2 linked regions of the Homo sapiens genome follow. The protein of the gene in region 1 purifies or fractionates together with the protein of each later gene. This does not show direct contact. Each region holds a gene or a part of one and is shown on either strand. Other genes may lie near its edges.

Evidence for each region. Proteins that work in one complex are often made in the same cells at the same time.
Region 2: the proteins of C1QTNF8 (region 1) and AGGF1 purify together in Homo sapiens (affinity purification with mass spectrometry; one large-scale study listed by BioGRID and IntAct). This does not show direct contact.

Annotation. Positions count from the first base shown.
Region 1 is NC_000016.10:1,094,134-1,097,880, forward strand, and holds the start of C1QTNF8 (complement C1q tumor necrosis factor-related protein 8 precursor), read right to left. Parts: upstream 2,112-3,747; 5' UTR 2,023-2,111; exon of another isoform or gene 1,656-2,022; 5' UTR 1,482-1,655; intron 801-1,481; 5' UTR 790-800; coding exon 582-789; intron 1-581.
Region 2 is NC_000005.10:77,040,263-77,043,909, reverse strand, and holds part of AGGF1 (angiogenic factor with G patch and FHA domains 1), read right to left. Parts: intron 1-3,647. UniProt on the Homo sapiens protein: Promotes angiogenesis and the proliferation of endothelial cells. Able to bind to endothelial cells and promote cell proliferation, suggesting that it may act in an autocrine fashion.

The sequences.
Region 1 (3,747 bases):
GCTCAAGGGTCACTGTAAGGACACACTCTTTGCAAGTGACGGCCCCTCTCCCAGTCTCCGCGTCCACGTCTGTAAGATGGGGAGAAGCCGTTCTCCAAAGGTGTGGCTAGACCAAGGCCTGTGGCAAGGCCGTCCCCACCGAGAGGGTGGGGACATGGGTGGTCAGGGCCAGCTACGGTCTGCGTTGGGTGTTAAAGAATGAGAAGGCTGGGAAGGTCCTACCCAAGCCTAACCTTAGTACAGCCTTCGGGACAGCGCAGCCGTGTCAAGGGGTCTCAGAGCAAGCGGGCTGCCCAGGCTCCCTTCCCAAGGGGCTGCTACTTTGGGGATCTCAGGAACCCTGGCCCCCTTCCCCAGGATCCTCAGCACCCCACTTTGGTTCATGGGTCCCTCCCCAAGCCAGGCTTCTTCCTGCTTGCGGGGGGAGCCCAGGGGTCCCTGTGCAGGGAGCGCTGCCAGGGCAGACACTGGTGCTCAGCGTGCCCCTCCCGCCCCTCCTCCCAAGCCCCAGGTGCTCCCCACTCCCTGTGGGCTGTTGGGTCCTGGTGGGGGAGCATGCAGGCAGCACCCACGGGCCTCACCTTTGAGGATTTCGATGTCTATAGTGGGCCGTACTCGAGGCAGCCCCCTCCACAGGTCCCCCCTCCACAGGTCCCTGTCACTCACCCGGGCATAGGGTCCAGGGGGCCAGGCCGGGCGGCAGCAGTGCACACAGGGCCTCCTGGGCAGCCCGGGCCAGGCCCCCACGGGCAGCAGCAGTGCTAGGAGCAGCAGGGCGGGGGCTGCCATCTTGGCCAGGGCTGGGGGAGAGGAAAGAGGGGAGGGACTGAGAAGGAGGTGCCCCAGCTGGAGCCCCCAGACCCTACGGCAGCCCGGCCCTGCCCCCGTTGGGAATACAGCCAGTGGAGGCGGGAGCTTCTGCCTGGGCACGGACGGTCCTGGCCCAGTGGGTGAGGCCAAGGCCGAGGCTCAGGGGCTGCTACACTCTGGGCCGCACCAGGCACCCTGCACACCTGGAGTCGGGGAGTCCTGGTCCCCAAAGCTGGGGCCCCCACACCCGGCAGATGGTGGGGAAGCCGTTGTGGGACACAGAGGTCTCTGAGACAGCCCTCTAAACTCAGGAGCGGGTAGCCGCCCAAGGCCCCACCCACTGTGGCTGGGCAGAGCCCTGGGGCGTGGTGGCTGGTCTGCTCCAGGGAAAGGCCCCCCAAGGCTGGCCTGGGGTGGGGGGCCCTGCACAGTGCACAGAGGCACCGTCTCAGCCAGGCCCAGAGAGCCTCTCGTCCGGAGCCCCCAGGGCAGGGCCTGCAGGGGCCTCGGGAGGCCACTCCTCTGCCTCCCCCAGACTAGGGAAGGATGGTCCCACCTTGGTGCCGAGGGGAAGCCAGAGCCAACCTGGGTCCCCCTGAGCAAGGTAGGCCCCCTCCCAACAGCAGCTGCCCCAACAAGCCTGGCCCCCCTGCCAGGTGGGCCTTGCCTACCCCACTCCCCTCACAGCCACATCTGGAGGCTTGGCCAGGAGTGTCTTCCGCTAGGGCAGGTGCACGGGTCGGGATCCTCAATATTCCCTGAAGATGGGCTCTGCTGGACAAAGATCTAGGCTGCCTCCTTCAGGAAGCCCTCTGGGATTGTAGCACAGGGCAAGGTCCTTCCTCCTGCAGTGGGTCATTCCAGGTGGGTGGAATGTCTCTGGCAGTTGAGACACCCTCTGCCTGCCTCCCCATGAGCTCAGCAGACCCTGACTCACCCCCTGGCCCCACTGGACACCACAAGAGCCCCCCTGGACTCCTCCGGCAGAGGGAGCCTGGCAGGAGTGGGTGTGTGCATGCACGGAGGCCTGCAGGAGCCCCCACGGAGTTCCCGGCCGTCCCAGCCCCTGGCCCTGCCTGGCAGACAATCAGGGCTGGATCATGCTCCGCTGGGGTTCAGGGGGAGCCCGACCTGCCCAGGGCGGCTGTGAAGACTCCCACAACCAGCCCCAGGCCCTGTGCTTCCTGTTACCGTCTCAGGGATGCTCCCTGCCTGGCCGGCCGTCTGTGTTACTGTCCCAGCAACCCAGCCGTCAAAGAGCCCTTTCATGCCCGCCTGGGCGCCCGTGGCTTCCTCTGGGCTGTCCAAGAGCAACAGGCCGAGAGGCCAGCTCCGCCGAGCCCTGGACAGGATCCTGGCAGGGCCCCTGTGTCCACTGCGAAGCCTGCCTCGCGGCCCCAGGGTCCTCCTGCCAGCCCCGTGCCCATGAGCGGGGCTGGGGCCCGGCGTCTTGGCCGGCTGGGTTGGGGGATGGTGCCGTGGGCACGCAGCTCTCCTCCATCGGGAAACCAAGCCTGCTGCCCGCCTGGGGTGCGGCGCCCTGAGGAGAAGCAGGCAGATGGAAGCTGTGGCTGGGCGGGCCCGGCGGGGGGGCTGTAGGCCGAGGCCCGTGTTCGGGGCCCAGACCAGGGCCTCCATGCTGCACGGGGCCCCCATGGCCACCAAGCCACCGGGTGACGCACAGCCCTCATGCTGCTGGCGGGGAAGCCAGGCTGGATGGAGCCCAGGAGCGCAGCCTCCCCAGGCTCCGTGGGGTCTCTTCATTCCCTCATGACACCCCTGGGGAGGCCCCGCACCAGCCCCGCCTCTCAGCGGATAAGGACTGGGCCGGACGACTCGCGGGAATGACTTCTAGGCCTCCCAGGCCTCAGCGGGCGGGGGCTCCATTCTCTGTGGGCCCCAGGCCAAGCCCACACAGCACCTTGGCCTTGTCCCGCTCCGACCCTGGGCCTCTGGACACGGACACGCGGCCATTCCCCACAGGTCCTTCCTCCACAAGCCGGCCCCTGTTGTGGGAGGTGCTGGACGTGGCAGGAGAATTGTGGCGGCCTTGCCTGAAAGCAGGCTGTGGGCGGGGAGGGGCCCCGAGCTGGCTCAGTCCCCTCGGCAGATTTGTGTGCGACCTGGGGTCCCGCTCTCCCCGCAGCCCCTCAGCTTGGCCTGGCCCTCAGCACCCCCATGCTAAAGACCGAGGAGGAAAGGAGGACAGGAGGTGAGGGGAGACCAAGGGGTCCCCCCTGTGGGAGCTTCGTGTGCCAGGCTGCGGGCAACGGGCTGGGGAGGGCTGTGGTGGGGACCGCACCAGCTGTAGCCGGTTCCAGGCTCCCCCCTCCAGGTGGCCCTGGGCGGTGACAGCTCACCCTTGGCAGCGGCACCCACTAGGCCCAGCGGCCCCCTCTGGGGACAGCCATCTTCACCCTGTTGGCTGTGGTGACACAGATGGGGTGTGAAGACCTGAGCGCCTGTGACTATGGCACCTGCATCCGACCGAGCCGGCTCAGCGTGGCTGTGCCCTGGGCGGCGAGAACACAGCTCTGCAGATGTGTCCCAGTGGGACAGTGTGCTCCTGGGGCTTGCAGAGAAAGACGGGCGGACGCCCACACTCTGCTGTGCCCTGGGTCTGAGCCTCAGCCTCCCATGCCCGTGAAATGGGCACCCATGGAGCTCAGAAGTATCCAGAGCGTCCCTGAGGCCTAGACACAGGGAACCCTGTGCCCCTCAGTGCCCCCCGACGCCAGCAGAACTGCCCCCTAAAAAGAGAGGCATGTTCCTGACAGTCCCCCTTGAGGGCAGGTCCCAGAGCCTCCCCACGCACAGAGCAGGGTGGAGGGAGGCTGAGGGGTGGGTGAACGGCCCGGGAAGGGTGCCTTTGGGTCCCTTGGGTTCGGGTGGCCCGGGATGACCCGTCCTGGGGAGAGTCCGTCTGGGCAGGCGGCT
Region 2 (3,647 bases), on another chromosome or scaffold:
CGAGACCCCGTCTGGGAGGTGACGAGCGTCTCTGCCCGGCCGCCCCGTCTGAGAAGTGAGGAGACCCTCTGCCTGGCAACCACCCCGTCTGAGAAGTGAGGAGCCCCTCCGCCCGGCAGCTGCCCACTCTGAGAAGTGAGGAGCCTCTCCGCCCGGCAGCCACCCCATCTGGGAAGTGAGGAGCGTCTCCGCCCGGCAGCCACCCCGTCCGGGAGGGAGGTGGGGGGGATCAGCCCCCCGCCCGGCCAGCCGCCCCATCCGGGAGGGAGGTGGGGGGTCAGCCCCCCCGCCCGGCCAGCCGTGCCATCCGGGGGGGGGGGGGTCAGCCCCCCGCCTGGCCAGCCGTGCCGTCCGGGAGGGAGGTGGGGGGGTCAGCCCCCCGCCCGGCCAGCCGCCCCGTCCGGGAGGGAGGTGGGGGGGTCAGCCCTCCGCCCGGCCAACCGCCCCGTCTGGGAGGTGAGGGGCGCCTCTGCCCGGCCGCCCCTACTGGGAAGTGAGGAGCCCCTCTGCCCGGCCAGCCGCCCCGTCCGGGAGGGAGGTGGGGGGGTCAGACCCCCGCCCGGCCAGCCGCCCTGTCCGGGAGGGAGGTGGGGGGGTCAGCCCTCCGCCCGGCCAGCCGCCCCGTCTGGGAGGTGAGGGGCGCCTCTGCCCGGCCGCCCCTACTGGGAAGTGAGGAGCCCCTCTGCCCAGCCAGCCGCCCCGTCCGGGAGGGAGGTGGGGGGGTCAGCCCCCCGCCCGGCCAGCCGCCCTGTCCGGGAGGGAGGTGGGGGGGTCAGCCCTCCGCCCGGCCAGCCGCCCCGTCTGGGAGGTGAGGGGCGCCTCTGCCCGGCCGCCCCTACTGGGAAGTGAGGAGCCCCTCTGCCCGGCCAGCCGCCCCGTCCGGGAGGGAGGTGGGGGGGTCGGCCCCCCGCCCGGCCAGCCGCCCCGTCCGGGAGGGAGGTGGGGGGGTCGGCCCCCCGCCCGGCCAGCCGCCCCGCCCGGGAGGGAGGTGGGGGTGTCGGCCCCCCGCCCGGCCAGCCGCCCCGCCCGGGAGGGAGGTGGGGGTGTCGGCCCCCCGCCCGGCCAGCCGCCCCGCCCGGGAGGGAGGTGGGGGGGTCAGCCCCCGCCCGGCCAGCCGCCCCGTCCGGGAGGGAGGTGGGGGGGGTCAGCCCCCCTGCCCGGCCAGCCGCCCCGTCCGGGAGGTGAGGGGCGCCTCTGCCCGGCCGCCCCTACTGGGAAGTGAGGAGCCCCTCTGCCCAGCCAGCCGCCCCGTCCGGGATGGAGGTGGGGGGGTCAGCCCCCCGCCCGGCCAGCCGCCACGTCCGGGAGGGAGGTGGGGGGGGGTCAGCCCCCCCGCCCGGCCAGCCGCCCCGTCCGGGAGGTGAGGGGCGCCTCTGCCCGGCCAGCCGCCCCGTCCGGGAGGGAGGTGGGGGGGGTCAGCCCCCCGCCCGGCCAGCCGCCCCGTCCGGGAGGGAGGTGGGGGGGGTCAGCCCCCCCGCCCAGCCAGCCGCCCTGTCCGGGAGGTGAGGGGCGCCTCTGCCCGGCCGCCCCTACTGGGAAGTGAGGAGCCCCTCTGCCCGGCCACCACCCCGTCTGGGAGGTGTGCCCAACAGCTCATTGAGAACGGGCCAGGATGACAATGGCGGCTTTGTGGAATAGAAAGGCGGGAAAGGTGGGGAAAAGATTGAGAAATCGGATGGTTGCCGTGTCTGTGTAGAAAGAAGTAGACATGGGAGACTTCATTTTGTTCTGCACTAAGAAAAATTCCTCTGCCTTGGGATCCTGTTGATCTGTGACCTTACCCCCAACCCTGTGCTCTCTGAAACATGTGCTGTGTCCACTCAGGGTTAAAAGGATTAAGGGTGGTGCAAGATGTGCTTTGTTAAACAGATGCTTGAAGGCAGCATGCTCGTTAAGAGTCATCACCACTCCCTAATCTCAAGTACCCAGGGACACAAACACTGCGGAAGGCCGCAGGGTCCTCTGCCTAGGAAAACCAGAGACCTTTGTTCACTTGTTTATCTGCTGACCTTCCCTCCACTATTGTCCCATGACCCTGCCAAATCCCCCTCTGTGAGAAACACCCAAGAATTATCAATAAAAAAATAAATTAAAAATAAATAAATAAATAAATAAATAAATAAAAAAAGTTCTTGTCTTGGAATTCGCACATTTTCAAAGAAGAATGGCAAAGATGAGTAGTTATGGGAGCGAGGCTGGACCAAAATATCACAGAATGCTTTCCATGTCTATTCTCTAGTTTTTCAGGCAAGGCCATTTGAGGAGCCCTACATATTCTTCTTCTATTGTTAGGGAGAGGTGCTTTCACAACCTAGCCTTCTTCTTTTTTTTTTTTTTTTTTTTGAGATGGAGTCTCGCTCTGTTGCCCAGGCTGCAGTGTGGTGGTGCGATCCTGGCTCACTGCAACCTCCGCCTCCCAGGTTCAAGCGATTCTCCTGCCTCAGCCTCCCAAGCAGCTGGGATTACAGGCATCTGCCACCACACCTGGCTAATTTTTGTATTTTTAGTAGAGACGGGGATTCACCATGTTGGCCAGGCTGGTCTTGAACTCCTGACCTCAGGCAACCCGCCTGCCTCGGCCTCCCAAATTGCTGGGATTACAGGCATAAGCCATCACACCCGACCTACAACCTAGCCTTTCAAACAATCAAACCACTAGTAACAAGCACAAGCCATTAAAACAGAGATCTTGAAAGCAAACAGAAAACTGATTTTTAGTATTTTAGTCACATACTCTTCTATTCCTAAGTATTGTTCACAAAAAAATAGAACAGAAGCAAATCAAATAGGAGAACAGAAAAAATCTAACAGAATCCTAATTCCTTATGTGAACTTTACAATTTAGTATCAAGTAATTTTTCTTTGGTTAAGAAAAGAAAAACTGGCTGGCACAGTGGCTCACGCCTATAATCCCAGCACTTTGGGAGGCTGAGGTAGGCAGATCACTTGAGCTCAGGAGGTCGAGGATGCAGTGAGCCATGATGGCACCACTGCACTCAACCTGGGTGACAGAGCAAGACCCTGTCTCAAAAAAGAACAGGACAGGACAGAAGGACAGAACAGGACAGGACAGAAGGACAAGACAGGACAGAGATAGGACAGGAAAGGACAGGACAGGAAACCATGAGATAAAATTTCAAGAGTAAGATATCAAATAGTTGCCACAGTTCATAAAATATCAATAAAACAAACAAGCCTCCTTTATAACCTATAAACCACCAAACTTACCTGTTTAGAGAGTAGAAATAAAGAACACTGTTAACTTTTTATATTTTCCTTCTTTCAATTTAACATTGCATCATCATAAGCATTTTTGGGGTTCCCCTTAGTCTTTACAAGTACCATCTGAAAGCCTACATAATACTTTTTTAAATTAAATGTAACTATCGCTTTCTTAACCATTGTCTTGCAGGCCATTTAAACTATTAATCCTAATAAATATGTTATCTCACTCCACAGTTGTCAGCAATGGATTTTTTTTTTTTTTTTAATATTTTCCTGGCCGGGTGCGGTGGCTCATGCCTGTAATCTCAGCACTTTGGGAGGCAGAGGCAGGAGGATCAGCTGAGGTCAGGAGTTCGAGACGAGCCTGACCACATGGAGAAGCCCCGTCTCTACTAAGATTACAAAAAAATTAGCCAGACGTG